Linked DNA regions of Homo sapiens. The protein of the gene in region 1 interacts with the protein of each later gene in a biochemical or structural test. Each region holds a gene or a part of one and is shown in the gene's direction. Other genes may lie near its edges.

Evidence for each region.
Region 2: the proteins of ACVR1B (region 1) and BAMBI form a complex in vitro, tested with the Homo sapiens proteins (one study listed by BioGRID).
Region 3: the proteins of ACVR1B (region 1) and INHBA form a complex in vitro, tested with the Homo sapiens proteins (one study listed by BioGRID).

What each region holds. Positions count from the first base shown.
Region 1 is NC_000012.12:51,946,366-51,956,688, forward strand, and holds the start of ACVR1B (activin receptor type-1B isoform a precursor), read left to right. Parts: upstream 1-5,333; 5' UTR 5,334-5,378; coding exon 5,379-5,469; intron 5,470-6,329; exon of another isoform or gene 6,330-6,406; intron 6,407-7,018; exon of another isoform or gene 7,019-7,134; intron 7,135-10,323. UniProt on the Homo sapiens protein: Transmembrane serine/threonine kinase activin type-1 receptor forming an activin receptor complex with activin receptor type-2 (ACVR2A or ACVR2B).
Region 2 is NC_000010.11:28,669,794-28,680,751, forward strand, and holds the start of BAMBI (BMP and activin membrane-bound inhibitor homolog precursor), read left to right. Parts: upstream 1-7,727; 5' UTR 7,728-8,104; coding exon 8,105-8,180; intron 8,181-10,958. UniProt on the Homo sapiens protein: Negatively regulates TGF-beta signaling.
Region 3 is NC_000007.14:41,691,765-41,702,037, reverse strand, and holds part of INHBA (inhibin beta A chain preproprotein), read left to right. Parts: intron 1-1,520; 5' UTR 1,521-1,663; coding exon 1,664-2,051; intron 2,052-7,949; exon of another isoform or gene 7,950-8,119; intron 8,120-10,273. UniProt on the Homo sapiens protein: Inhibins/activins are involved in regulating a number of diverse functions such as hypothalamic and pituitary hormone secretion, gonadal hormone secretion, germ cell development and maturation, erythroid differentiation, insulin secretion, nerve cell survival, embryonic axial development or bone growth, depending on their subunit composition.

The sequences.
Region 1 (10,323 bases):
ATTCTTAGTCTTTTACTTGAGTATTCACTTTCTTGCTAGTTTACTGAGCATTTTACGTTGTTTTCAGCCGAAGATTTGCTCAAGGAACCTGGTTTACCATTCCAAAGGAAATCCAAATTTCCCCCTCCCATCATAGCCAAGTTATTTTAAATAATAGATGATACTCAGTGTTTCTAAGCCTTCACCCCCACTTGTAGCCTCCTGAAGTTAGGCCTTCACCCCATCCTCCACTGAGCCTGCTCAGGTAAACGTCACCAATCAGAAGTTACCAAAGCCCTAAGAGACTCTTGTTCCTCATCTTACTTGACCTCTTGTCAACATTACAAACTATGGGCCTCTTGAAAGCCTCTCTTGCCGTGGTTTCTATTATTCTATTTTTCCCAGGTTCTCTTCCTACTTCTATCACTGTTCCTTCTGTCTTCTTTTTTGCTGGTATTGCTGTATTTCCAGAATTCTCTTGCTCCCTTGAGCTGTTTGAACAACAATGATATGCTGCTAACTTCCAAATCTACATCTCTGTGGCTCCAGGTACCTTCAAACTCAGTATGCCTGACAAGGAACTCAGTTTTTACATTTTTAAAATTTTTTTATTTTTTGGAGACGGAGTCTCTGTCGCCTAGGCTGGAGTGCAGTGGCACAATCTTGGCTCACTGCAACCTCTGCCTCCTGGGTTCAAGTGATTCTCCTGCCTCAGCCTACCAAGTAGCTGGGATTATAGGTGCCCACCACCATGCCCAGCTAATTTTTGTATTTTTAGGGGTTTTGCCATGTTGGCCAGCTGGTCTTGAACTCCTGACCTCAGGTGATCCACCTGCGTTGGCCTCGCAAAGTGCTGGGATTACAGGCGTGAGCCACTGCGCCCAGCCAAGGAACTAATTTTCTTTTTCCCAAACCTGCCCATTCTAGTCTGCTGAATGAAACTACCAGGCAGCTAGTCACCTAAGATTATCCTAGAGTCATATGGGGCCATCCCCTTTCCTCATTTCCCGTATCCAATCAATCTTGTCATTTCTACGTCTTTGAACTCTTGAATCTGTTTCTCTTTTCCACCTTCACATTGCTGCTGCCTGGGGTCAGGTCCACCTCCTATCTTGCCTGGGCTTTGCCTTCTCTTTGGTTTCCTTACAACCAGTCTTGTCTTCCTCCAACCAGCCTCTGTACAAAGTTCAAATTCACTTGGTTCAGCAAAGTGATCTTCCTAACACAATATGATCAGTTTACAAATATGATCAGTTTAGCCTTTCCTAAAATACAAACATGATCAATTTACACTTAGAACCCTTCCAAGTGTACTGAAGAGGGTCTCTTATTAGACTCCCACTCCAGTGTGCTCCATTTCCAAGTAGACTTCCACGTCTGCCTAGCTCACCAACATTACGTTTCCACTGTCCATCATCTTCAGCCTGCATCTTCTGGGTGTACCGCTAGGCTGCTCACGGTTCTCCTAAATGCCAGGCAGAACAGTCTCCTGCCATCTCCTGCCCTCCTGACACAGGCCTATCTGGGGGGACTCTCTGATCTTCCAAGAATCAGCGTAGCCTGTCTCTTCGTGAAAACTTTCTCAACTCCTCAGCCTGTCCCCTCACAGCTGAATCATTCATGTCCCCTGAGTGGCCCTCATTGGCTCTTTACAGGCTTGTGTCCTCGCAGAGATAACCCGTTGTTGCTCTTTTTCTCATGCTTTTCTGTATTAGATTTTAAGTTCCATGAAGGCGAGGACTATGACTTATCCATGTCTATATGTTGTGCCTGGTGTACTGTAGGTGCTTAGTGCTTGTGGAATGGATGAGTGAAGATGAACTATTGCCTTCTTGGGATGAATGACCCTGCTGCTCACCAAGGCAAATGATCCCCTAGGTAGTGGTGTCTCTGTGCGTTGCGACCAATGTGGCAATTGTCACACTGAGTTGTCACTCTAGTCAGTGGGACTAAGGAGTAAGACTTTTTCCTGGAGAAGTGGCTCCTGCTAGCTCTGGGGACTCTCCTGACAAAGAGACAGGGCAGAGGGGAAAAGAAGTTCATAGACTGTGATGTGGGTCCAGCCCTAAGATTAAGACGGTTTACAAGGCCAGGCACGGTGGCTCACGCCTGTAATCCCAACACTTTGGGAGGCCGAGGCAGGCAGATTACGAGATCAGGAGTTCGAGACCAGCCTGACCAATGTGGTGAAACCCTGTCTCTACTAAAAATACAAAAATTAGCCAGGCATGGTGGCGCATGCCTGTAGTCCCAGCTACTTGGGAGGCTGAGGCAGAAGAATCGCTTGAACCCAGGAGGCGGAGGTTGCAGTGAGCCGAGATCATGCCACTGTACTCCAGCCTGGGAGACAGAGCGAGACACCGTCTCAAAAAAGAAAAAAAAAGAAAAAGAAAAAGAAAAAAAAGAAGGCTTACGAAAATGGACACTTACCGGGGCCTTCAGGGATGGTGAGGAGAACTAGCAGGAAGCATCCTTGGGCCAGGCTGTGGGAAGGAGCGAAGGGCACAGGTAGGGATTAGGCAGTCTCTATGTAGCGCGGGACCTAAAAGGAAGGTAGACACATCACCTAGGAAAGCTCTAGTTTGGAGATGCCCCAAACTCTCACAAATGGGGTGTGAGGCATATGATTAACCCCTCCCCTGCTCCACCTCATTTTCCACCTTCAGCTGGGTCCTGAAGACCAGTACCTAGAAAAGCAGGAGATGCTATGGTGTTGAAGAAAGCACAGGACCAGTAGGCTGTGGCTTTAATGATGGATTGTATGTGAGCCTTGGCAAATCGCTTACCTTCTCTAAGTCTCAGTCACTTCATCGGGGCACACTCTGACATGCCTCAACCACTTCCTAGGATTGTAGTGAAGGTCAACTCATAATGATGATAATAGCTATTCTTTTTAGATCACTTCCTATGTGTCAGAGATTATGCTAAATGCTTTACCATATTTTATCAATACTAACAATATCTGTATGACATAGAACTATTATTAGCTCCATTTTACAAGATGAGTAAATTGAGGTTTAGGGAGGTAAAGTATCTTGCCCAAAGTTCAATGCTGTCAAGTGAGCTGATGGAGCTGACGGAGGTGGCATTTGGTCTGTGGAGCCAGCATTCTGGTTCCCTGATCTGTATATTTAGCTGTGTGGCTGACTTTACTGTCTAGGAGTGAAGCAACCACAGGTCCCCTCTGGGACCCCTGGCCTCGAAGCCACAGTGGCAGCACTTAGCAAGAAATAAGGAAAGATACCTCCCTCCCCCCTGGCTTCAGATATGTGCTCCTGAGGGGTTGGCTTTCCCTTCTTAACTGCAGGGGTTGGTGACTGTACTGGGTTGAATAGTGTCCACCCAAAATTCGTGTCTACCAGGAACCTGCGAATGTAATCTTACTTGGAACGAGGATCTTAGCAGCAGATGTAACCAATTAAGATCATTTGCACTCATACTGGATTAGGGTGGGCCCTAATCCAATGACTGGTATCCTTATAAGAAGAGAGGAATGTGGACAGAGATGTAGATGCAGAGGGAAGATAACCATGTGAAGACATGGGGTTATGCTTCCGCAAACCAAACAACACCAAGGATCCTGGGAACCACCAGAAGCTAGAAGAGGCAAGGAAGGATTCTTCCCTAGAGCCTTCAGAGAGCACATGGCCCTGCCAACACCATGGTTTCAGATTTCTAGCCTCCAGAACAGTGAGAGAATACATTTGTATTTTAAGCTACCCAGTTTGGTAGTAGGAAACTAACACAGTAACCTAGCACTGTGTGCACCACAGCTTGGTGGATAGAGCATGGATTGGAAACCACTTAGACGGACTGGGTGGGGTGTGCCTATTTGGGGGAGATGAGGGAGAGGAGAATAAGTTATTTACTCATCCAGCTACACTGACCAACTTGTAGACAATGCCTCCCCATGACTTTATGTGATTGTGTGTACACTGTGTCTGGCGAGTGTGTCTTCAGCTTTATTTTTTCCGGATATGACGATGGGAGTTCTTCAGGTTGGTGAAACTTAGAAGGTGAGAATTCCATTTAAGCAACTGTTCTCCCTATCTCTTGGCCATCCTTTCCACCCCTAGATCTCAGATGGTGAAGCTGTGCTTAGAGAGGTTCAAACCTTGCCCAAGTTTTCACAGCTAGTTAGTAGGAAGCAGAATTCAGATCCAGAATTCTCTGGCTGCAAAAATTCTGCCCTTTCCTTTATATCAAGTTCTTTCTCAAGCTAAAGAAACTGACCTCTTTTCAGAAAGATACGGAGTGATTTGTTTACTTTCTTAAGCATTTCTTCTAGATTTGAAAGTAACATTTATTTGAAAAATATTTAGAAATTATTGAAATGTTAAAAGTAAAAAAATTATGGCAATAACTACTGTTACTATTGGGTAAATATCCTTCCAGTCTTTTTTTCCTATAAACACATATTATCAGTACAATTTGAATAATACTGTAAACAGTGTTGCATTTTGCTTTTTTAATTTAACATTATCTTGTAAGCATTTTCTCATGTCAATAGTTTTTGTAAACAGGATTTTAAATTACTAAATAATGTTCCATCATATGGATGGGCCATAATTTAACATTTTCTATTATTGTCTACTTAGTTTCTACCTTTTTTACAATGATAAATATACAGTTAACATTTTTCATAAACATCTGTCCTCTTATTATTTCTTGAGGACAGGGGACAATACTGGGTAAATGGATATGAAGATTTTAAGGCATTTGATGCATAATGCCAATTGTTTACCAAAAGGGTTCTACCTACCAGCCCAATCAGAGTGCCTCACACGGCACCCTCACCCATACTGTCATCAATAAAGAGCTTTGCTATGTTCTGAAAAGGCGCGTGCCGCGATTCCATCACACAGGCTGCCGCGTCCAGAGGATGGCAGGGGGCGAGGCGAGGCAGGGAAACCAGTTAGGAGACCGCGGCGATGATCCCAGGGGACGCGCTGGGGGCTTGAGGCTAGGCGCAGGGATGGAGGAACTGGAACACGCACGGGATTCGTAGAATATTCGACGGGGGCGGGGGATCGACTCTGATAAGATAATTCTGCACTGCGTGGGGTGCAGGAGAGGGAGGAGACTGCACGTTCGGCTCCGGCCTCCTCCGCGCCGGGCTCGGCACCGATCCGCGAAGTTGGCCGAGGCGTGAGCCCCGCCCACCCCTTTAACAGGGACACTCCCCTTTAAGGCGGGCGCCCGCGCGCGCCCCGGCCCCGCCCTTCGGGGGCGCGCGCGGCGGCCGCGGCGCCGGCTCCGCCGGGAGCGCACGTGCAGGCGCCGGGCGGAGGAGAGGGAGGCGGGAGCCGGGCCGCGGGAGGAGGGGAGGCGCCGGGGGCGCGCGCGCGCGCGCTGGGCGCTGCTGGGCTGCGGCGGCGGCGGCGGCGGCGGTGGTTACTATGGCGGAGTCGGCCGGAGCCTCCTCCTTCTTCCCCCTTGTTGTCCTCCTGCTCGCCGGCAGCGGCGGGTCCGGGCCCCGGGGGGTCCAGGGTGAGTCCTGGGACGGGGGGCGGGGGCCGGGATGGAGAGGGCCCGGCAAGGGCGAGGCCTCGAGCCGCGGCCGCTGGACTACAGCGCGCCCCCTCCCCACGAGCACAATATGGCCGGGTGGGGGGCGCAGAGGAGTCGGGGTGACCCCCAGTCAGCTTCCCCGATCTCCGAGGCGCAGCCGCCCGGCGGCGACGGAGCTCACGCCGGGCCCCTGGGGACCCGAGCCCTGTTCCAGGCGGAACTGGATTCGGGCAGTTCTCAGGGGTCGCGCTCCCAGCGCCCTCGTGTTCCAGAGAGGGGAGTCTGAGCCTCCAGCTCCAAGATTTGGAGGTCCGTGGTTTCTGCCCTTCACCGTGTCCAGGGGCGGGGGGCTTTCTTCCCTCCCTCCAGGTGCTCCTGGGGGGCGTCTTTCTCCCGCCAAGACTGTGGGGTTCGGGCGGTGGGGTCTTAGCCTCTCCGAGGGAACCTGATGTTGAGAGTCCGCGCACCTCAGACTGTAGGGGAAGGGGTCTCTAACCTTTCCTTCAGGTCCTGCACTTGGCGTGTTTCTTCCCCTCCCTCCACTGCCTCCCTAATGTTCTGGGAAAGGGAGTCACATTTCCCCTTCACTCAATCCCTTGAGTTCAGTGGGGCAATCCCCCCTCCGCCCTCCGGCACTCATGCCCCGTGGAGGCTATTTGGAGGAAGTGGGACGAACAGGCCCCTAAACCTTTTTGGAGCCTGGCTTTGGAATCCCTAACCCTATGGAACCGAGTTCCCCAAGGGTTGATGTGAATCTAGGTGTATTTGCTTTCCTCCTCGCCTCCCCCACCCTACCCCGGGGGGCCCATTCAGTTAATCACTTTGTGGATGCCTTTCAGGTGAAATCCTGGAACCTGTCTCCAAACCCCCAAGATTATTTAAAGATCCCACCACTGGACTGTATTCCCGGCCCTTGGTCAGTACTTATTTACCTTCCTACACGATGCCTCTTCCCAGCCCGCCCACCCTCACACACCCCTTACCTCCCAATCCCCACAGTCTGCGGCTCGCCTTATACCACCCCCCCACTCTCCTCTCTGTAGAAGCGGGTACCTTTTTGCGGGACACTTCGCTGGCTGTGTTGTTTTTGAGGCTTTGGGGGCTGAGAAGAGCAGATGAAACCCTAAAATATTTCATTTAAGAGAGTCTTGGCGAATGTGTTTTGGCCTTGGGGTAGCAGATGAAGGTTATATTTGGCAGTTATATTGAAGCGATTATTGACCCACAGATGGATCTGGGAGAGATGATCAGGATTGTATTCGCTCCTGACGTACAAAGCCTGATGCTTTGACTTCTCAGCAGCCCCTAACCTTCCAGCAATGGGAGATAAAGTGTGTTCTGTGGCTCTCTTCTCTTACACTAAAAATAATGATTCTCAGGTGGGTTCAGTCGTCTTTAATAAACCAGACAGTCAAGAAAAGACACCATGCCACTTTGGAATCTCAAAAACAAGTTCATTATCTCCGGCTTTGATATTTGTTCCCAGTGGTGGAGCCTGTGCAGCGGGGTCTTTGTTCACGGGCTAATGCTTCTCCTAAGCACCTCGTGTGTGTTCTTCGGCCTCACTGCTCTGTGGCTTAGGTATCTGTGCTGTGGGGTTTGAGAAACATGGTGAAGGTGTATGAACAGAGCTTGACATTTGTGGTGAGATAATGATTTGCATGAATAAGGATGTTCGTCGGGCCTTATTAAGGGCCATGTTTTTGGAATGTGTAACATAATGTTCTCTACTGGGTAGTAAAAAAAAAAAAAAAGGGAGATTGAACCTCTAGGTTTGTCATTTTATGTGTGTATGTATAAATCTTTAAATCCTCATATAGGAATTTTTATCCTGCCCCTAATATATCCAGGATTTTTAACAGTCATTTCCCTGCTGATTTGATGTAGTGTTTGTGGGGTTTTTCTGGTTGTGAGCCTAGTTAAGAATGTTTGATAATCCAAGTGGTTCTGAATGGGGCAGAGTTCATTTTTTTGTAACCTTCCTAAAATGGATGTTTGTGGGGGTTAAGGTGGGTGAGTAAAATAGGGAGTTCGTTTCTTTTTTTGGTAAATTGGAAATTAGGTTGTGTGTCCAGCAAACATTCTCCAGGGCCTTTAAACTTCTTGGCCAGACACTACAGTTTTTTCCAGGACACGTCTAGTTGCCAATAGTGTATGCTATGGAGACCACTGCTGCAAAGGGCTTAAAGTAAAACGTCAGTTCTGGGAAAATAGAGGCTGTGGGATAACAAGAAGTTGATTTTTTTCCCCTCCCCTGCATTTCCTATATAGTGCTCCCCTACGTGGGCTGGAGGAGTGACAGAGCCAGACAGCTCTGATGCCTGATACTTGGACTTGATGTGAGGGGCAGTAAGGGATAGGTGTTTCTATTAATTAATGAATTAACTAGGACTTAGTAAAAGGCCAGTGATAAGGAGAATGAGTTTCAGTTAGAAATAGCATCCGTTTGATAGGTGTACATGTTTTAAGGCCTGGCTTTGGAATTTTCACATTTAAAAATGTAAAATTGAGTTAGTAGCAGGAGAACATGACATTCATTTCTCAAGACAAAAGCAACAAGAGAGATATTTGACATTCTCATAGGAACATTTTGAAATTTTGTGAGCGGACTAAAAATCTAATTTCAAGCCAAGCCTTGTAATTTTGTTGAGTGGACATGGATTTTAAGTACAGTGGAAGTGCAGTCTTGTAGAGACCTCTGATTAGTTTTGTTTAAACAGCTCCTGGAACAGATGTGATAAAACATATTAAAATGGCTACTCTGGTTAAAGGTTAAAGCCAGATGGAGGGAGGAGGCTGGTTTTCAGCCCTAGAACTTAGCTGCCTTACAAGTTGTCCTTGAACAAGTAACTTAACCTTTCTGTGACTGCCTCAGTTTTCCCTCTGTAAAAATAAGGAAATATTTTGTGTCACTCTTATTGGGACATTTGTGAGACTGACTTACTGATAGCCAGTTGGCGGGGAGGTATTTTTAGACACAGTTTCTGACTTCAGTGAATAAGCAATGCTGGGTTACTTTTTTATCTTAAGGAGCAGAAAAACATACTCTGTGATTGATAGACGTACAGCATGTCACAGTGTGGTTTTCTTTTTGTGCTTTTTTGTAGACCCCTTTCAGATTTCCTCAAGTTAATTTCTGTCTCTGGCAGGCTCTTACATCGTCGACTAGGCAGCATACCTGTGCTAATCAAAGACAGTCTGGAGGGAGTGACCTGCTTTAGGCTTTATTGGTTTGGCAACGTTTTAATTCTTACGCAACTCTGGGTATGTTTATGGCACTATGTAAATGTTACATAAGAACATGGAGGCTGAGAAGTGGCCAGAATGGTGACTGTGAACACAGGAAGGTTAGACTGAGGACTTTATCCAAAAGGACCTTGGGAATCTGCAATCAGTACAGGAAGAACCTGCACTTATTTTCCTCTAAGAACCTTTTTAGATGATTATGTCTTTCAGGTGGACTGCTGTGTTATAAATAGGTTTATTCTCCACCGGTGAGCTAATTGTAACCTTGCTACCAAAATATGAATCAGTAAACGATGAGACGTGCTGCTTCTTCCAGCATGTCCTGTTGAAGCTGCTTGTTGCATTTTGGAACATGAGTTGAATTGGGTTGCAGTCTGTTCTCATAATAGCTGAGGAGCACAGGGTGTTGAGGTGGAATGGAATTATCAGTTCGTGGTGCTTTAGGTCATCTTAATTTTTGAAGGTTAAATTAGAATACTGAAGTGGCTCTTTATAATTTTGAAATCTCTATTGTTTACTGTTCAATTTTTGCTCAGAGTAGCAGTGAACATTAATTCTGGGATCTCGCCTGTTTGTCTTCAGTTCTTGTGTTAGCTGTTGTTGTAGGAGTTGGTGTAAGAGGGTCTTAATCTCATTTTCCTCTCTGTATTCATAAAAAGGGAATCCTAGAGTCCTTTCTCACCAGTGCTTCTGATGCTGGACATAACTGCAGGCAGCCACAGCCCATCAGTTCCACTTGGACTGGGAATGCGGGAACCTTTTAAGTCCAACTTACATTTCTCTCACTCTGCAGGCACTGCCTCATGGCCAGGTTCAGATACCTGCTCTGAGTTTCTGTTCTCAGTTTTTCACTCTCATGCAGGTTTAACTTGAGCTTTGGCTTCAGAGGCACCATTTCTGTCCATGTCTGCTCTCTCTCCTCTGTTATGGAGAAATGGTGTGCTAAGCAAAAATATGATTTCAGAGAGTATCTTTCTTTCCTTTACTCTGTAGAGTTGCCATACTTTGGTTTAGCTGTGAAGTTTCCATCCCAGGCAATCTTTATCTGCTCTCTAGGGTTCAGAGACAGTGCCACTTTAGGCAACTCTGGGCTTTTTGGTTTTCTTTAGTGTCCACCCAGTCTTAAGCCTGCATTTGTCTCCCTAAATATTTTGAATTTAGCATAATGAAAGTAACTGCCTTTCCCTTTAAACCATAACATCACACCTAATATTTACACAGTTAACATATAGGAGATTTCTTTATTCATTGGATTGGGTATGTGCCTGGAACAGTTTTTGGCATGGGGAAATAACAGAGAACAAGATGAACAAAAGTCCCTAAATCTCTATTATGGAACTTATAATTGCAATGGCTTAGACTGAAAATAAATAAGTAAACACAATTATCAGTCCATGAGTGCTGTGAAGAAAATAAAACAGGATGCTGTGCCATAGTGTGCCTGGAGCTGCCACTTCACCTCTCTATCAGCTTCATTGTTTTATCTGTAAAATGGGGCTAATACAGTCTTGTTATTTGTGGTAGTTCCATAAAGTTGAATTGTAGAACTGAATTACCAAATCTTCAACCATTGCTCCTAGGGGAAAT
Region 2 (10,958 bases), on another chromosome or scaffold:
CCATAATTAGTCAGGATTTTCTTGGGAAATGCTTCCGTTTGAAAGTGAATAAGCAACATCAGACTTCTTCGAAAAATGCCATTGGATAGGAGATGGGTTATCTCAAGGTGTCACGTTGCAGGGTGGAAGAGTTGTGTTTTCCAGCAGACTAGAGGCACGAGTTATGGTTCCATGAGAGCAGCTAAGTTTCTTGCGTAATGATAAGTTAGGCGACCAATTTGTCTCAGCTGATTCTTGGACTATCACCAGTCATGGGAGCAAACGTTTGTTGGCAAGATTCCGCGTTTTTAGAGAGATACCACCACCCTGCCCAGGCTGCAGTCTGACTTGGCAGTAACATTATTTGCACTTCAAATCTTCAGCTCCAGGGAGGAGAAAATCCTGAAACCACCTGGGAAGTCCTGAAGCCATCATAAATACATTCAGATATTACAAATTTTTTCCTTAGACCGATTTCTAAGGAAAATTGGTCACCATTTCTATAGAGATTCACAGTTAACAAAACTTACACGAAGACCTCAAGTTGTACTAGTAGCAATCTCTGGAGCAGGCAGGCTACCAAACACTCTTGTTCTCATTTTATGGGCAAGAAAACTGAGTACCAAGGGGCCAATTGATTGGCTCATAAAAACTCATTGAGTATACTGGGCGTGGAGGTTCATGCCTGTGATCCCAGCACTTTGGGAGGCTGAGGCAGGCGAATCACTTGAGGCCAGGAGTTCGAGACCAGCCTGGCCAAAACGGTGAAACCCTGCCTCTATCAAAAATACAAAAGTTATCCAGGCATGGTGGCAAACATCTGTAATCCTAGCCACTCAGGAGGGTGAGGCACGAGAATTGCTTGAACCTGGGAGGTGGAGGCTGCAGTGAGCTCGCTCCACTGCACTTCAGCCTGGGCAATGGAGCAAGACTCTATCTCAAAAATAATAATAATAATAATAATAATAATAAAATAAACAACCAGCTTGGGCAACATGGCGAGACCCTGTCTCTACAAAATATTTAAAAATTAGCAGGGTGCGGTGGCATGCACCTGTAGTCCTAGCTACTGGGGAGTCTGAGGTGAGGGGATCACTTGAGCCATGGTGGTGGAGGCTGCAGTGAGCTGAGATTGTGCCAGTGCACTCCAGCCTGGGTGACAGAGCCAGGCCGTCTCAAAAAACACACAAACAAAACATTGAGTAATGGAGTGTGGATACAAATGCAGGACTTCAGTTTCTTACTTTAGTGTTACTTTTTCCTTGCTCTGTTACCCAGGCTGGAGTGCAGTGGTGCGATCTCGGCTTGCTGCAGCCTCCCCATCTCTGGCTCAAGGGATTCTCCAGCCTCAGCCTCCTGAGTAGCTGGGATTACAGGCATGCACCACCACACCCAGCTAATTTTTGTATTTTTAGTAGAGATGGGGTTTTACCGCGTTGCCTAGGGTGGTCTTGAGCTCCTGGATTCAAGTGATCCACCCTCCTTGGCCTCCCAAAGTGCTGGGATTATAGGTGTGAACCACCTTGCGAGGCCCAGGGAACTCTTTTTATATACTCCTGTCATTTAATGAGGAACAACTAAGTGGTATGGGGTGGAGCCAAGTGGATGGACCTCCAAGGAAACAAGTGACTACTTTGACCCTTTGGCTGTAATATTGATGGATTTTGCTCATGTATTCCATACAGACTGGCAAGCAATGCCATTGCTCATAGACATTGCATCATGGGCATCTTGCCTGCTCTTCCCCCCGCCACTATATGTGGAAAATGCCAGGTTGACTATTCACTCCAAATACTCACCTTTCTCAAGAAACTAATAAAAAGCTCTGCTCGTTGCCATGGCCCCACTAAGAAGACAAGATGTTCAAGATTGTTGTATATTAAAAATAATCCACGAGTTCAAAATGGTCCTGGACTCTGGAAAGTCTTGTACTCTGCAAGGTTCTGAGTCTTCAGTCTGTTTAAAATGGGCTGTCTTCAAATGGCTACATTAAGTTATTTTAGATGATAGCAAACACTCAAGTGATAAAGTCACACAGAAGTAATAATTTGAAGGAATGATTTTTTTTTTTTTTGAGACAGAGTCTCACTCTGTTGTCCAGGCTGGAGTGCAGTGGCGCAATCTTGGCTCACAGTAACCTCCGCCTCCTGGAGATTCTCCTGCTTCAGCCTCCCCAGTAGCTGGGATTACAGGCATGTGCCACGATGCTCGGCTAATTTTTATATTTTTAGTAGAGATGGGGTTTCACCATATTGGCCAGGTTGTTCTCAAACTCCTGACCTCAAGTTATCCATCTGCCTCAGCTTCTCAAAGTGCTGGGATTACAGGCATGAACCACCGTGCCTGGCTTGGAGGAATGATCTTAATTCCACTCACTAATCACTTCTCAGCCTTTTGGCTAAGGTCAAAATTCACTCACTAATATATTTCTTTTCTTTTGAGATGGTCTCTCTCTGTTGCCCAGGCTGAAGTGTGGTGGTGTGATCTTAGTTCACTGCAGCCTGGAACGCCTGGGCTCCAGTAATCCTCCTACTTTAGCCTCCCAAGTAGCTGAGACTACAGGCATCTGCTACCGGGCTTGCTGGTCTCAAACTCCTGAACTCATGTGATCCTCCCACCTCAGCCTCCCAAAGTGCTAGAATTACAGGTGTGAGCCTCTGAGCCTGGCCTACTTTATTTTGCTTTATAGGTGAATTAACTTTATATAATATGACATGCTTTATGGTGCCAGCCTGCCCATATCTCTTTCTGTGTGTTCTTTCTGGCTCACACCCTTGCTGAGAGCAGTACCCAGGTTTTATATTAGCCAGAACCCTATCCAAGCCCAAGAGATCACAGACTGAGTATTTGGGGATGGTGTCTCCGTAAGCTGAACAAATGACTGTGATAGTTTGCAGTAGTGATAGAAGGTGAAACCATCTCTTGGGTAGTATCTCTCTGTATAGGGGACTCATGCTTGGACAAAAAAAAAATAAAAGCAGAAATTATGAGAGTAAAAACTACAAATAAGGAGAGGATGACAGCCCACTGGCAAAGAGGTGAGAAGCAAAGACAACCCTGAGAAAAAGAGGCCCAAGTCTCTGGCTTCTGGCTCCAGGAAGGTTGGCTCCCCGAGCTGATAAGCGGTGCTTGTCAATGACCAGTTAGTAGTAACCATACCATAAGCCTATTTTGTCCATACCACAAACCCCTCCTAAATTAATCTTTAGTGTGTCTCTCTTCCTTTTAATTAAGCAAGTTGACTAACGATGTACTATAAATGTTTTATTTTTATTTATTTATTTATTTATTTGCTATTATGTTCTGGCCACTGTCATTGTTTTTATTTCATAATAATTCCTGAGAAAATAACTAACTATATAGTATTTGTTTTATCATTTACAAAGTATCAAGACACACATTATATTTGATGTGTGAGTTCAAGCCATGAAATAAAATGCCAGCCAAACGTGCATATCTTCAAATATTTAATGCATTTTAACGAGATTTATGGACACAGGTTATGAAGAGAGTACACCCTAAGTGAGGTCATCAATGAACAGAATTCTTGTTCTTATCCTTGGTATTAAGGGAAGAACTTCTGATGCGCTTTTCTCAGATTGTATAATCTTCCTTTGTTCTATCTGGTCACCTAACAAATAAGCTCCTATTCTGCTATGAATCCCTTAAACACAAATAACTCTCTGATAAGATAGTCAAGCTCACACCTGTAATCCCAGCTACTTGGGAGGCTAAGGTGGGAGGGTCACTCGAGGCTAGAAGTTTGGGACCAGCCTGGGCAACATAAGGAGACTCTGTCTCAACAAAAAGTATAGAAATTAGCCCCATGCAGTGGGGAGCACCTTAGCTACTTGGGAGGCTGGGGCCAGTGGTTCGAGGCTACAGTGAGCTATGATTGCAGCGCTGTACTCCAGCCTGAGTAACAGAGGGAGGCCTTCGTCTCTAAAAAAGCAAAAAAAAGCAAGTAACTCTCTACTCTCCCATTCACAATTTAGTGCCATTTAGTTACATGTTTAGCCTATAATTTCAAAGACATCATTTAAAATCTTTAAAACATCTATACGGCCAGCATGGTGGCTCACACCTATAATCCCAGCACTTTTGGAGGCTCAGGCAGGAGGATTGCTTGAGCCCAGGAATTCTGAGACCAGCCTCAGTAACATAGGGAGACCACCATCTCTACAAAAAAATTAAAAAATTAGTCGGGCATGGTGGCTCGCGCCTATATATATACATATATATCTCCCATGGATAAATTATATCTTGAATGCTGTTTGAAGGTAATAAAAAACTATTCTACTGTTTAACGGTTTCAGTTAGGTCTAGAATCAGTTTTCTGTTCTTGGGTATAGAGAGCTTGTTCCTAGGTATTTTCGGAATCCCTTTGTAGATGTAAAAAGAATTTTGGTCGTTGATTTCATTTCTTGCTTTAAACTTCAAAAGGACAGTAGATTGTACTATTTTTTTTCCCTCTACTTATCAACCTACATGTAGGAAAGTAATAACTGAATTATGTGCAAAGCATAAGTAAAATTCTCTAGAGAAGCAATTTTCCTTAAGAATGTTAAATTGAATTAAAATTGTTGCCTATTCTCTCAACTATTGATATGGCCTTATGATTGACACATTATCCCTAAACTGATTTTGATATTCTACATTGATTCAAACACTCTGATTCATTTAGTTGAAAAGTCCATGTCTTCCCCAGAACCATTAGATAAAGTGCGGACTTGTTTCTCTTTAATTTCTGGTCATTTAGAAAGTTTGCCCATTAATAATAAAAACAAAATAGTTGAAATCATTGTCTAAAAAATGGATCCCAAGTTCTTATTCAGAATTGGACTTGGAACAAAAAAATATATACAACCTGGAGTGCTCAAAGTCAACATTAATTCAATAAAATACAAATATCTTAGTTTGGTTTCTTTGGGTTGCAAGGAAAAGAACCTTAAGTAAAAAGGGGACTTTATTAAGGTTACTGAATTAACCTAAGGACAAGAAGTGACGCTGAGTGCCTGGAAATCCATTTGGATTTATGTATTTGCCACTTTGCATATCTTCATTATTTTTCTTCCTCTGCAGACAGGTGGACTACAGCTGCCCCAAAGCAAAATTTTTATGTCTCCCGTGAAATGACCTCAAGGGACTGAGCAGCATGTCTGCTCAAAGACACAGAAGAGAGAATCTAACTGACCTAACCTGGGTCATGTGACTAGCTATGGCCAGAGATTAGGAGATCAGAGTCTCCTAATCAGGTTGCCAACGCCCACTCCGGGAAAAGGGACATTCTCTGACTTGGGCTGGGAGACACTCAGAAAGTGTCTACTAGAATGCAACTTTCACCAACACATTCCCCAGACCTCTTCCATTAAATATTTATCTGTATCAAAGGGAAGTATAGTTCATTTCTGATACGTCTCTGTTCACTTCTTCACATTTTATGCTGCAATCACAAAGACTTGCTTGTCATCCCAACTACCTGTTCGCTGCTTACCACTCCTACTCACCTACACAATCATATTTCATGCCTAAGTCCTGTGGTCCTCTGTGCTTGTAATGGTCTTCTTCCAATCCTTAATGTCATTGCTTCTAGACTTTACCGGCTCTCTTTACCTTCCTAGACTAGTTAACCTCTTTCTTTTAGGCATTGTAACATCATGCACATAAATCTCCATTATTGTCCAGCTCCATTGTTTTGAGATTTACTATCTAGTTTCTGACATCTTTATACCCCCAGACATTGCAAGCCTCGCCTACGGTGGGAGGCCAGGTTGAACTAACATACCCTGAAAGTTTCCTTTTAGCTAATAATTGACTCTAAAAGAGAGTGTAATCATTACATAAAAAGTATTGTCCTCTGGGCGCGGTGGCTCACGCCTGTAAATCCCAGCACTTTGGGAGGCCGAGGCGGGCGGATCACGAGGTCGGAAGTTCGAGAGCAGCCTGACCAACATGGCGAAACCTCGTCTCTATAAAAATACAGAAATTAGCCAGGCGTGGAGACAGGTGCCTGTAATCCCAGCTACTCAGGAGGCTGAGGCAGGAGAATGGCTTGAACCCGGGAGGCGGAAGGTTGCAGTGAGCCGAGATCGCGCCACTGTACTCCAGCCTGGGCGACAGTGCCAGACTCGTCTCAAAAAAAAAAAAAAAAAAAAAAAAAGTCTTGTCTGCATAAAACCCTTACAATTGTTAACTTGTCAAGGTTCTAGTAGCCAGGAAGTTCTAATCAAACTCGGCCCCAGGACTGCCTTGTCAGCACGCCCCTTGAGAAACTTTTCTGAGAAACCTGCTGTTTACCTGGTGCCCTAACCAGTTTAATTTTCTTTTAAAACTTCTACTGGATTTCTCCTTCTCTCCTTTTAGATGCAATTTTGATCTAGAGAAGTAATGGTCTGAGCATCAGTTTATGAAATTATTTTATTTTTCTGCACATAAACATTATTTTTCAAAGACAATTTCATTAACTACATCCTGCAGCTCTGCAGACTTTCAACAACTTTAAAAGGTTAGGCGTTTGAGATATGTTCGCCTTGACTTTCAGTCCTCAAGACATATGTACATTTTTCTTAGTCTCAAAGCTCATGTCTGCACTCTAGTCCTAAAGGATTTGTCTTTATAATTCTCACCTTAGCATGAAATGTGCTTCTCTTTCTTTCCTTCCCCACCCCCCACCCCCTTTTGACATATCCGGTAGGGAAGCTCTGGCAGATTCTCAAGAAGAATTTTGCAAATGGTCGACTTTTGTTCATCTCAGGTTTTGGAGGGAGAGGATAAAAGAACATTCCCTCAGATAATGAGTTTTAACCTTAATTCCTTCCAAAGCGGAGGGGGAAACAAAACTACAGCAAGACCACCTTGAGTACCTTGGGAAGGGCAGCCCCGCGATCCCTAATAAATGAATTAGCATCTCAAGGAGGAGATCACTGCGGGGCTGATATTGATCAGGGTCAGCCGGCGTGTTTGCCAGCCATTGTTTGGGGGGTGGTTAATTGAGTGTCAGTCTCGGCCAGTGTCGTCTCGTTGGCGCCGGGTGCTTTTGGATTTGCTAATTTTCGTTAAGTGTCTCTAGCCCGCTACTCGTCCCGCGTACCCGGGAGAACCTAGCGGCTCCTAACGGATCAACAGTCAGTCTGTCTGGGCTTTATTGATCCCATGGCGGGCAGCTCGAGGCGGACACGCTGAGGGGGTGGGGGGCGAAGGCTGAATGCAGACCCCAGCGCTGGGCCGCCTCCCCCGGGCTCCCACCCGAACCCTCCTCCGCCACCTGCACAGGCCGGGGCATTGTCACTCGCCCCTGGGGGTTCCAGAAAACGCAGTGCGGCCGGGGAGGACGACCACACGGACCCCCTGCGTGTTTCGGGGGGCACCCAAAAGAAGCCCCGCGCTGGGGAACGCTGACCACCCGAGGCTGAGCCGTCAGGGTCTCGGAGGCGGGTTCCCGAGCCGGTCCCGGGGCTGGGCTCCCCCGGCGCCTCGCGAAGGTCACTGACGCGCAGGCCTCCGCAAGGGGGAGCGCGGGAGACGGCAGCGCACCAGCCGGGCGCCCCAGCCGGGCGCCCCAGACGCCGGCGCCGCTCGGAGCCGCCGGGCAGGTCCCCCAGCGCTCGCGTCTGGGCCCGCCCCCCGCTGCGGGGCGGATTGACAGGAGCCCGGCGGCCAATCGGACGCCGTGGGGCGGGGCGAGGCGGGGCGGTGCAGGCCGGCTCCCGGCGCGGGGCGCTATTTACGGCGCGGAGCCGGAGAGACCTGGGCTGGCGCGGGCGGGAGCTGCGGCGGATACCCTTGCGTGCTGTGGAGACCCTACTCTCTTCGCTGAGAACGGCCGCTAGCGGGGACTGAAGGCCGGGAGCCCACTCCCGACCCGGGGCTAGCGTGCGTCCCTAGAGTCGAGCGGGGCAAGGGAGCCAGTGGCCGCCGACGGGGGACCGGGAAACTTTTCTGGGCTCCTGGGCGCGCCCTGTAGCCGCGCTCCATGCTCCGGCAGCGGCCCGAAACCCAGCCCCGCCGCTGACGGCGCCCGCCGCTCCGGGCAGGGCCCATGCCCTGCGCGCTCCGGGGGTCGTAGGCTGCCGCCGAGCCGGGGCTCCGGAAGCCGGCGGGGGCGCCGCGGCCGTGCGGGGCGTCAATGGATCGCCACTCCAGCTACATCTTCATCTGGCTGCAGCTGGAGCTCTGCGCCATGGCCGTGCTGCTCACCAAAGGTGGGTGCCGGGGGCGCACGGGGCCCGGGGTCCCGTCCTCGCCGCGGGGCTTTGGAGCCGGCTGCAGAGGCTTTGTTAGCGGCAGGCGAGGCTCCCTCCTGCGCCGGAGCCGCAGGTCGCGACAAGTTGCTGTGTTCTTAGAAGTCGCGGCGGTGGCCTGGCGCGTGGATGCGGACTCCGATCTAAGGGCAGGCGCTGATCAGAGGGTCCTCCTGGCTCTGCCTGCGGGGAGCGGCGCGTTTGCAGCCCAGCGGGGAGCGGGGCCGGAGTCTCGGCCTCGACGCCGCCGCTTCCGCACCCTGGGGGCTCGGGCGGCCGGGAGGAATCGCAGATCCTGGCCTGTAGCTGCCGCGTGCCCTCAGCGTGTCTGTGTGAGTGCCTCAGGGTGTATTTCTGTGAGTGTGTCTCTGAGTCTCAGTATCCCTAAATGCATTTTTGTGTCTCTGAGTGTCGTTGTGTTTCTGAAAGTGTGTCTGAACCTCTGTATCACTCAGCGTATCTCTGTGTCTCTTTGAATGTATCTCTGAATGCATTTCTGTGTCTCTTTCTGAGTCTTTGTGTCTCTGAATGTGTGAGTCTCTGTATCTCTGATCTTGAGTGTGTCTTTCTGAATGCATTTCTGTGTCTGTCTCTAAGTGTCTTTGTATCTCTGAATGTGCATCTGAGTCTCTGTGTGAGTGTGTCTCTGCGTACATCTCTCTGTGTGCGAGCGAGTGTGTGGGTCTCCCTGAGAGTTTAGGTGTCCGAGGTGTGCAGAAGTGTGTGTTGTGTTGCTTTTCAGCAGCCGGGAGGAGTAGGCTCTGTCAGCGTCTCACTGCCACTCACCTCATATTTTACAAACAGGACCAAAAAAAAAAAAAAGGCAGCGGGTCAGTTTCTTCTTTCCTCTGCAGGCTTTCACCTTTTAGAAAGAAATAACCCGAACTGTCTCCGAATTTCAAGGTTCTCCTCACCTCCCTGCTGTGAAATCTACCTACTGTTCTGTGAACAGATAATTTTTTTAAGTAGGAAGCAGTTTAGTCTTTGCAGCCCCCTACTTCTCTTTAATTGCTATGTAGCAGGCATGAGGTTAAAGCATAAGCTAGCCCAGCGAGGATGATGTGCTACAGTATTTATTTATTTTGGAAGGAAGGGTGTAATTAACCCTAAATAACAGCCCTTGTGGCTTGCAGAGGGGAGCCTCCTGGCCCTATCAAAGGCGGGCAGAACAGGGAGGGACTGAGGCTGACATGAAGTCACAGATACCGAAACTATGTGCCTGATAATGATATAATTAGGGGATCAGAGATTTCTGACGGCTGCGGACTTCAAAAGCTTTAAAAGAAGCCAGCAGTCTCTCCTGTAGCCATCTTGACTAAAGCAGACATTTTTGTTTAATCACTACATACAGTAACGAGAAGGGGACAGAAACAGAAGGGCATTGTTCCACAGTTTCAAAATACCAGTCCCCTTTCTGGCCTTTTGCATGCCACAGGAAGAAACTTTATGAACGACAGAAATATAGTTTTAATACAGTGGTACAAAAGTCCATTCTCCTTGCTTAAAATGTGGCTCCAATTAAAAAAAAAAGGTAGTTAGAACTTTCCCAGTTACCTGTCAAAATTTTATTAGGCTGTTTTTAGGTCATTGAAAATAGGCTCTCATAAACATTTAAGCAGCATTTTACTTGTATTCAGTCTTCCTTTTCTGTACAAGGTCTGAAGCTAATAGGGTCAAAATGGGCTTTTAATCTGTTTTATTTATACTTTAAATCTATATATGGAATTTGTCAAACTAGGGATATGTAGTCATCACCCCAGAAGACTGGTGAGCTTTATGTGGAAAATAAAGTGAGCTTGGAGGGAGGAGGAGAAAGAGCAGAGAAGTGGTTCTGCAAAGCAAGGTTCTTACTTGAAGCAGAGAAGGAACTTGGGCCCAACCAGTGCAGATTTAGGAGCAAGACCCCTAGCTTTGGACTGTTAAGGGTTGCCAAAGATCTGTGTTTAGCGGGCTGGTTTTCCTTAGAACCGAAGCATTAGCAGCGTCCGGTGAAAACTGAGCATACAATACCGTGGTCTGGAATTTGGACAGATAATTAAATGAGACACCTTACTGGGGCGTTCAGAGAGAGGGGGAAGAATAAAGGTAAGGGTGGGAAGAGGTTTGTAAAACAGCAGATCCCGGTGTTTAATTTCAGAGTGGAGGTTTCGGATCTTCAGACGGGAAACTGGAAGAGGCGTGTGCATTAGTTTAGTTTACTCGCTGTGGCATGTGACAGCGACCAGGGTCCACTAGGTGGATATTGTATTAGTGAGAACTTGAAGACCCAGATTATTTCAACGAGAAACTGATATTAAAGCCTCCAATCTTGCCCTGCGACAAAATGTGAACGGAGCCATGCAACTCACAAAATAAGTTTTTATAAAGGAAACTTTTAATCACTTCCTGTAGAAAATTTGAGGTTTCCTTAAGGATTTTTCATTCAACCAGCAGAGGATTTTCAGTTTCAGTGTTTCCCCTTTTAGATCACATGTCGAATTACATGTAAAACTTGTGAGGAGGAGGAGGAGAAGTTAGCCTTGCAGTTTTATACTCCCCCCACCTTTTATGACTTTCCATTTGGGCTGAAAGAAATTGACTTTGGCAAGCAAACCACTAATTGTAAACTGCCTAGTTCCTGTTTTACAATATACTGACTAAAAGCTCCTCTGCATGAAAAGATCTTTATAGGCAAAAAGTTTGCCTTTTCTAGAGAGGTTGCAAATAGCTGCCTAGTTTCATAGTTTTAAAACCTCCTGA
Region 3 (10,273 bases), on another chromosome or scaffold:
AAGATTCTTCTGCAAGATAAAAGCAATAAGACAGAAAATGAAAAAGAGGGGAGGGGGAAGAATTTTTTTTAAGCCTTAGAAAGGCATTGTTAAAAAATTCACATTTTTCTTTTTCTGTGCACACTAAAATCCATGATGATTTCATCTGCACTGTTCCTTTGAGGGAAAAAGAAGCAGTCAAGGAGGCTGTCTATGAATGCACTGGTCGGGACAGGCTTGGGGCAAGCTGAAAAAACTACCACATGACAGAGAAAAATAATTTGCCAATATATTTTAGAGAGTCTTTTCCCATAGGACCAGTTATTCAAGTCATACGAGTGCACTCTTTTTATAAAAGGATGTGGGAAAGGCCAAGAGAATTTTGCATTTTATCTGTGAAGTCCGGCGAGTGGTGGTAGGCTGTAATGTGTGAGAGTGAGTGGGTCCCCGGCAGAAGGGGGCAGCTGAACGCGACGGGGAGAAAGCGCTTCTGGAACTTGGGCTTGTGACAGGCTGCCTGCCCTCTGGTCCTTCAGTGCCCTGCTGCATTTCACAGTTGGGAAGAGTGGAGTGTATTATATGACCCCAAACAAAAGTTCCATTGCGCTCTCCTCAGATTGCCTGCCAGTGTTGATGACCTGAACATTTAAATATGAATGAATTGGGGGAAAGGACCATCTCCCCTGGATCCCATCAGGCCAGAACAATCCTCTGTTACCCCTGAGTCCCTCTTCCCTGACCTCCACTACCTGTCCACTGGACCTCCCTGCACCCTCTGCCCCACCACGTGGCCAGGTGGGCGTTCTACCACCTAGGGCTGTGGCTTGGCTGGGTGGAGGGGCGGTGGGAACACTTTTTCAATCAATTCATCCCTATTGATTGAGACACTGTGTTTGTTTGGGGTTTCTTTTCTCCCCTCCAAAAAAGGAAGAAGGTGAAACCAGGAGACTGGGCAGAGAAAGAAAAAAAAATAGTGAACAAAATTAGGATAATTTATTTTAGAAGAGAAAGTAGAACCCCCGAAAATGGTGATATTTGAAGAGAGGTGTCTGTGAGGAAGCTAAGAGCAGAAGGAGAGCAGCCTGTCAGAAAACGGGCTGTCCCTCCCTCCCTAATCACAGCCCTACTCACAGCAAACTCCCTCCCTCTCCATTCACTCACTTACTTAGGGCCAATCCTTTCTCTCTCTCTCTCTCTCTCTCTCTCTCTCTCTCTCTTCCTTTCCCTCTCTCCCTCTCCCCCTCCCTTCCCTCCCTCTCTCCCTCTCTCTCCCCCTTCTTTCCCTCTCTCTTCTCTCCCCCTCTCTCCTCTCTCTCTGTCTCTGTCTCCCTCCCATCCTCTCTCTCTGTCTCTGTCTGTCTCCCCGCCACCCTGTCTCTCCCTCCCTCCCTGTCTCCCTCCCTCCCTCCCTCCTTCCTTCTCTCTTACTCGGAGACAGTCAGAACTCTCCTCCCTGACAGCCACAAACCTACAGCACTGACTGCATTCAGAGAGGAACCTGCAAACAAAACTTCACAGAAAACTTTTTGTTCTTGTTCCAGAGAATTTGCTGAAGAGGAGAAGGAAAAAAAAAACACCAAAAAAAAAAATAAAAAAATCCACACACACAAAAAAACCTGCGCGTGAGGGGGGAGGAAAAGCAGGGCCTTTTAAAAAGGCAATCACAACAACTTTTGCTGCCAGGATGCCCTTGCTTTGGCTGAGAGGATTTCTGTTGGCAAGTTGCTGGATTATAGTGAGGAGTTCCCCCACCCCAGGATCCGAGGGGCACAGCGCGGCCCCCGACTGTCCGTCCTGTGCGCTGGCCGCCCTCCCAAAGGATGTACCCAACTCTCAGCCAGAGATGGTGGAGGCCGTCAAGAAGCACATTTTAAACATGCTGCACTTGAAGAAGAGACCCGATGTCACCCAGCCGGTACCCAAGGCGGCGCTTCTGAACGCGATCAGAAAGCTTCATGTGGGCAAAGTCGGGGAGAACGGGTATGTGGAGATAGAGGATGACATTGGAAGGAGGGCAGAAATGAATGAACTTATGGAGCAGACCTCGGAGATCATCACGTTTGCCGAGTCAGGTTGGTGCTGGCATTGGCAGGGGGTGGGGAGGGGTGGGGGGTGGGAGGGTAAAATATATTTCTTTGACAGTCCCAGGAGGAACTTCTTTTCCCTTCAGCTGGAAACTGCCTGGGAAGGTTATTAGTTATTAGGTGATGGTAGCGGACTAGCCGACGGAGGGCAGGCAGGGGAGGGGGAGAGGACTTTACAGAAAAGGAATTCTCGGTCGAGCTCTGCCTGGAGATGACTGGCTTACACTTACTAAACCCAGCGGGTCACACAGAGAGGAAGCTCGGGGCCAATGTTGAGCTGGAAGGCAGACTGTGAGGGGCTGCCTTGCCCTGCCTGTGAAACCAGATCTGAGCAGCCGGAGGAAAGCCGCGGCATTTTCGGGTGCTAGGGGAGCAGAGGAGGCTTCCGGACCCCATCCAAGTTTTTATTGAGGGTAGAGGGGTGAATGTACCAGGATTGGAGTGGAATGGCACAGATGAAGTCACTCTCTTAAAACAAACCTTCCCCTTTAAAAGTCCAATCTGGGGCCACATTGGAGAAGCAGGGCATATTTATGAGTGACAGTCATTTTTACCTTTAGAAAATGTCTATAAGTGCACAGGCACCACATTCAAGACAGGGAAGAGCTACTTTGGGGGACAGTTGTCATTGAACCAGCAGTTACTTTTGGGACACTGACTTTTGCTCTCTGAAAGAAAAAAAAATAAATAAAACAACCAGTTTTGTTCTTTCTAAAGTTACTAAGAGCTCTCTGCCAAGGAACGCAACCTTGACAAAGTACTCTCAGATACTACGCTGAACTCACTCAATCCTTAAGAGGAAGAACTTTAATAAATAGATTCTAATCGTTGGCCCAGGACCACACTAACCTGTTGCTGAATAGCAATACCTGTCAAAAGTATGGGCCCATGGACTTGGAGCCAGGCTATTTTTATAGTTAAGTGACACAGATCCTTTGCATGCCTGCAAGCCCATGCACGTCAGGCACACAGATGTGTTAATACCGTGTTACTTTCATGGTAATGCCAGGCTAAAGAATTGCATCCTTTGCCAACTCCATTTGAAAGGAATGCCATTGTTTTGTTTGGTAGAGCATATGGCCAGTAAAGTATGTGCAGGGACTCCCAGCATTTTTGTTTAAAAGTTTGCCGCAGCAGTATAAACAATTAAGGCAACACTCAGAATTTCCAATCTGAAAACCTGTTGACTCAGATGTTCTGTTTTCAAGAAAACCATGAAAGACCAGGGCATCTTTCCGGGGGTGCAGATAGCCTGCTGGCTGTGTGGCTTCCCCTTGCAGGAGAAGCCCTGGTGTCCTACAAGCTTCCCAGTTTGGCTCTCTCACCAGAAGCCTCTCTCACTTAGGGAAGATCCTACTTTCTTTCCCTAAAGCTCTTTCTTAACCCAGCCCCAAAAGGCATGATCATTAGGACTTTATCTTCTGGAGCTTTTTGAGGAAGAAAGCTAGGTTGGAACTTTTCAAGTTGACACCCATTTTTTTTTCTCAACTTTTCATGGTGGGAAAAGGTAAAAAAGAAAATATTTACAATATTTGGCTGTGCATGTGAAACAGATTTCAGTGGTCTAGAGGGTTGCTTCCTGTCTTTGTATACCAACCTCCACACATGATGGATTCAATGACAGCTCGTATCCAGTTGCCTTTAACCATGTCATATGACTAAGTATACCTATGCCTTTGACCACTTTTAACCGCACTACCGTTACTAGCAATATGCCCCTCTTTCTGACTTACTGGACTTGTATAGCAAATCACTCTCTTAGCATTTAGAGATTTGGCAGTGAAAAAATTTGACCATTTACATTCTTTCTTATGTGTGGTCTTCCTTTCTGTGACAGTCTTCTCTCAGTTGTATGAGATCTTGTCATTTTTTTACTTCTCAGTTAGGTGTTTAGTTTGAAAAAAAATGAGCGACTTTTGAAAAAGCGATTCGTTGGACGTTCACATTGAGTCAAGTTTAAGATTTGTAATGGGAAACTCCTGGTTGACTTTACAACTTGACTTTGGATTCTTAGAAAACACTTATTACAATTGCTTATTTTTCTCTGAGGGATTTCACACATCAACTTCAAGTTGATTTAATGTAATTTCATGTATTTAATGATTGCTGTATGGACTGTCTACTCTTCAAGCAGAAAACCACGTGAGCATTTTGCTGCTGATTTTGCTAGTCCAGAAAAGACATTTATCATCCAAATGATTGTAGCAAATATATGAACATGAATAGAAAAGACCTATGTCTTGTTGCTTTTGGAATAATTCAACTTTAATAACATTCCAACTATGTGGAATGTCAAGAGTTTTTGGAGAATAGAAAAAGGAATGCATTTTTCTTTCCCTTATAACCATTTTGTGCAGCATAGAATCCAGACATTGTCACCCATGAGCATGCCACAGATGCAGACCCATAGCAGCCCCTTTCAACCTCAAGATTCTTCAATTTGAGGCTACGTTTAATTTTTGCCTTTTCTCTCCTTGATTGTTGGATAAAGCCAAGGCCTGGCTACAGAAGTAGAGAGCCTCCAAAAGCTGAAGTGCTGAGGACTCTTTTAACTGAGTTTGTCCCATCCTGTTTAGGTAGAAAGTGCTCAATTTTTGTAAAGTTGATGCGAGTTGTTATTGACTAAACAGCAGGGAATCACTCTAAGGCTCTCTGAAATGTATCCCAACAAACAAAAATTATTTTATTTTTATATATGTCACATCACCCAAGATTTCTCACCAAGGTTAGTGTGTTCTTTGCATGGCTGGCACAAAACCCTCAATGTTTTACCTTAAGGCCTACAGAGTTCTTCACAAGGAAAGATAGAAGGGATGGGTAAAGCCAAGCTATCACTATAAATGTCATGAAGCTAAATTCAGTGGCCTTTTCAGCTGATGCAGCTTATTTTTATTTTATTTTGACTCATGACAGTAGGTGGTCAATCAATGCATAATAATAATGTACCTCTAAGTCTCCATATGCTGTCAAACCTGGATGTGGGTTCTGGTAATTAGCTTAGCAATTGATAGCACTTGTTGTAGAAAGAATAGGGAAAGAAAGACAAATGACACACCAAGAAATGGATGTGCTCACGTAGCCTAGGTGTTGTTAAGCGCAACACATAAGTCTACCCCTTGGAGGATACTATGTATGGAAGATTTGAGTTAGAAGTTTGCACTGCCCAGACAGGGATCCAAGAAGCTTTGCTTGGATGACCATTTTCCCCACCCCAAGAAAGCCATCTCAAAATGAAGCTGACTCCCACCATTCCAATCCCACCTTCCGAACTTTTCTGTGAATCACCCCTCCTTTAGGGATGCCTTTAGGGGTTACACGCTCTCTTCCGTGAATAATGGGGAAGAGCGGCCACAAGAGGGCGCGTTCCAAAGACTTTTGCTCCTTGTCAGTGTATCCAGGGAAAGGCAGTTGCGCGTACTGGAAGCCCCTGTCTGTAGCGCCCTAATCTTGGTGATTATCAGTTACCGCCTGCTCCCTCTCATCCTGCAGAAAAAGTTAGGAATTTATGAGATGGGAGAAGCATGACTACCTGTAATACATTAAATGAGACAGAAGGAAAGGAAATGGAAATTCTAGTGATACATGTGAACATTCCGGAGCTCTATGGAAGGCAGACGAGTGATAAATTTCAAAAGCAAACAAAGCGGAGCAGGGAGAAATGTGACTATGAATCATCAGCGATACTGATTTGCTCACAAGTCTCTCCCTAATACGGTCTCCCGGGTCGTAACAAAAACATCTTCCATCTCCCCTGATTTTGTTGCCTAGTTTTCCTGCCTTATCAACAGTTTCCACCAGCGACAAATGACAAGTGACTTCAAACAGGGAGGAAAAAGGTTCTTTCTGTAATGCCTTGTGGGAACATGGTGTTCGGCTTCTGAGGATGCGTTTGTTTCCGAACTGAGGGTGTGGAGAGAAATGGTGGGAAAGATGGGAAAAGAGATTAATAGTGGTCTGCGGCCTGTGCAGTGGATGGACTGGGCTGGGGGTGGTGGAGATGCCAGGGTGGAAAGTCCGTTGTAATATTTAAAGAACTGCAGTAATACCTTCCCAGGCACTTTTCTTGAAAACACATATTTGTCTTGGCCCCTCTTCTGCTAAAAAATACTTGCACGTGATCTCCTAGCTGTAGTTCTGAATTCTTCGTACTCGACTGGTTCCTAAGTCCAAAATGAGAAGTGCCAAAGTTCTCAGGAACTTTGGAAGAAGTCTCTGAAATTTTGTGGGTTAAACCTTAAGAATTTTTGCTACTTGTAGGAACCTAAAACCCCTTTCTCCCAAAATATTTAACCTTTTTCATCACCACTTTAATGGAAGAGGCATGGATGATGGACGTTTGTGCCAGGGCATTTATAAATCAATAATGGACCCTAAGGAGGGAAATTAAAGCTAAAAAATTAATCAAGATAATTTATGGCCAAACCTATAGTTCTACTGCAGGAAAGATCCTCTACTGTAGGTCAAAGGAGGAATAACCTTAAGACCTCACTTGCTGCTTTCTGCAGAAACCCCTGGAAGCAGTCCAAATGCAAAGTTAGGGCTTCAGAGAATGCACCCTGTAAATGGTAGTTGTGTATACCCTTACCATTGACTATACCATATCTAGGCACAGTGAAATCTTGATGAAGAATGGAAAATTAAAGGAACAGACGCTTTTTACAGGGAGGCTTCCCCCAGCCCCCATCCCATGGTAAGTTTAAATGTGTTCTATAAACAACGAGGCTTTCCACATTCACATTAGAGACATAACTATTGCCCATATGTAAAAGAGCAACATATTTTAAGCAGGACCCTGGTGAGGAAAACAAAACCAAATCGAAACACTGCATGTGTGTGTTGCTTATTTAACTGAAAATGTTCATAGACCCACAAATCTGAGATGCTGGACTTTTGGATGAGTCCAGCATTTTGCATCTTAGTGTAGGGGGAGGGAACAACAAGGGGCTTAGTTGCTTAACCCTTGCCATGCCTTCATGATTGACTTATTCAAAACATTTTTAAAATTCTGAAAGCAAAGGAAAATGTGCTGCAAACACCCTTCCAGCTATCTTTCCTTCCAGCTTACACAGTCTCTCCTCTGTCCAATCCTTCCCACCCAGCAGCATTTCAGAGGTATTCCCTGTGAGGTACAAAATTTCTCTTTGCCCATTTTTCTGCACCTCTTTTTCTCTCTCTTTGGTATGTGTCCACCAAGCTCATAGAGGTTTAAGTGATGAAATATTATCACCCACATGGGTTTGCGTGGGACTTTCTTAGTGAATTACTCAGGCAGAGCAGGCTGTGATACAGCCTTGCTCACAAGCCTCGGGAGGGAAAAAATAGCACAGAGGATGAAAAGAATATTATTAGAGAGCAGGTAATGAAAGGTTCGCAAAGCAACCAGCTATATCTGGTTAGCTAGGTAATAGTGCAGGAACCTAGGTCGCACCTGTACAAACTAATGCAGAACCTGCTCACGGCGCACTATGGGAAGACATTCATTTCAAGAGTTTACAGCATGAGATATTTGAGTAAAACCTGAAACTGATTAGAAATTGATCCTGAACATCCCAGCCTTAGTCAACCTTCCCTTTTTCAAATTGTTATGCATGGAGATTGGAGGATTGGGGCATCTTGAAAGTGTCACTGCAGTATAGCAATCTCTCTCAGGTAATATAGAGATAAAGGGAATATAATAAATTGACCTGTTATTTATTATCTTTTTCATACCTAGGACATTCCGAGGCTTAATATATTTCTGAAGCCTACAGCCCTGATAAACATCAATCCCACGTCAGTTTCCAGCAGTCTCATCTCCCCACACCCTTCTGCAATGAAAGCTAATGTAAAAGAAAGAAATATGCACTGCTTAATAAGTCAGAATACAATAGAACTTGTAAAATGTACCTGCATATAAGGTAGACATTAGGAAGACTTGAATCTCTCTCTTCCCCCTGTTCTCCTGAGCATTATGGCAACAGCATTTTCATGAAATTAGATCTGTTTTATATTTTTTCCTGATAAAATATCATGCAATATACAAATAGCAGTTCCAGAAATGGACACCAGGAGAAGGAGGCGACAGGCATGTCAATTAGTAGGGGGAAAATCCAAATGTCAGAAATATGGGGGAGAGAGAAAGCACGCAGGCAGTGGATGCAAATACAGGGAACAGAGTCTTTCAATTCAGATAATTAAACGGATGCATAAATCAGCACCCTTGCCTCTCTACAATACGCAGGCGATGCCATGCAGTTAATTATCAGCCAAGACCAGCATGAAAGTCATTTTATGATGACTCTCTGATCCTAATATAACAGCACCTGACAGATTGAGCCCCCTCTAATGAGTACTCTCTTTGTACAATCCTCTCTCAGGAACACTAAATCATTTGCTTCCAAGTACAGCTGCCTGTGAAGAAGGGGTGGGGCTAGATCATGCATCAGAAACCTGCTCTTGTGAAATCAGGGGCTGTCCTGTAGGCTGTGTGACTGGAAGCCAGCAGCCTCAGCCTCTCTGGCCCTAAAAAAGCAATTTGCACACGGCTGTCCCTAATTCTAGTCAGCCAAGTAACCCTCCCTCGGCACCCCCACCTAAACATCTGTAGTCAGCCTTGGGTGTTATTCATGGAAAGTCCACTGCATGCGGGTCAGCACTGCTGTCCATCGGCTTCACCCTGACCCCTTCTGGCAGGTGTGGATGAGAGTAGAGCAGAGCTCATGGGGATGAGTTACCCCAAACCTATTAAGCCTCCCTATCCGGGGCACTAGTCAGACACTCCAGTTTTACACTCTTTCCTAGAAAAACAAAACCCAACCTTGTGCCCTCTGGGTTCTCTAATTTAGCAGCTACTATCTGTCTGTTTTTGGAGTGACACCCTGTGCAGTTTAGGATTTCAGAAGCTGTCCTGCATAGAGGCAGAAGGGAAAACAGCAGGTATCTTGTTAACATTCTCTATGGGGCAAGGCAGATGTGCCCAAGCTGGAGGAAACCTGCACACCCTCCAGGCTAGTTATCCAAGGCTTGGGAGGTTTCCCTCGGCCTTCTCCTAAGGCCTTGGCAGGACCCTGCCACCCTAAAATCAACTGCTGATTGCCTTTTTAGATTTAAATGATTAAGCTCTGCTTATGGGAATCTTCTTCTCTTTTATTTTGTTAAGAAACAAACAACAACAACAAAACCCACACCAATTCTTAGCAAAGGGGAATATCGAATTCAGATTTTGAAAAAATAAGTCATCATGCTTCCTAAAATAAGACAGCTTCTCCCTCTAACTGCTCTCTCTGCTCTGGTATTCTATCTAATCATAAACCCAGCTTTATTATTCATTTCAACTCCTGCCAAAGACATGAGGTCGGAGTCAGAGGAACTCCCCTTACCACCGCCACCATCATCATGGCCAGCATCCTCGTAAGTTTATAGAAAGATGCCAGAGAACCTTTCCTATCCATCTGCAGCCCTGCTTGGCCCTTGCCTCAGTGAATTTACCACTATCATAATCACAGTGTGCAGAGTGTGTTAAATTAAGAACAGAATCCACAGTACGCAATGCACAGAAAAGCCTGCCTTCTGCTGCAGAGAACTTGAAACTGTGCCTAAAATTTATAGTACCGTAAACATCTCAGGGCCTCGAGTGATAAGTATGGCTGGATTTCCGTTAACTATAGAAATCCAGGCAGGGAGATCCTCCCAGGGAGTTGCAAGTTCTAAGATGAACTTCTTGAAGATTGTTCCCAGATTTGTGCATGGGATACATGTACAGCAGACAGTTGTAAGGAGGTCCACGGTCATGGAAAAGAGGATATGTTTCTATATGCCACCAAGTGGGAAAAATGGAAGTGAGGGAAAATATTTGATTAATCAAAAAATTTTAGTTTGGATACCTGCTTTCATAGTAATTGTTGCTGTGTCATTAAACATACAGTTGCTTAGGAAAAGAGAAGGAAATAGGTGACTTTCTAATTTTAGAGTTAGGCTGGAACTGAGTGGTTGCTAAATTCAACTGCCCTGACAATGTGGGGATTTCCTGTCCATTAGCAGCGATTGCTATTTGACATATGTTTCTGGTGCCCATTAATCTGCCCTGTAATGGGTCAGAGGCAAAAATGGGGGATTCAGAGGTACTAGGTGGCTCTCTTAATTTAATAGAACTCAATGCTAAGGACGCCTCTATTTGTTAATAAGTAATCAAGTCATTGGCTACTTTCTGCTAAACACTAGACTATGATAGT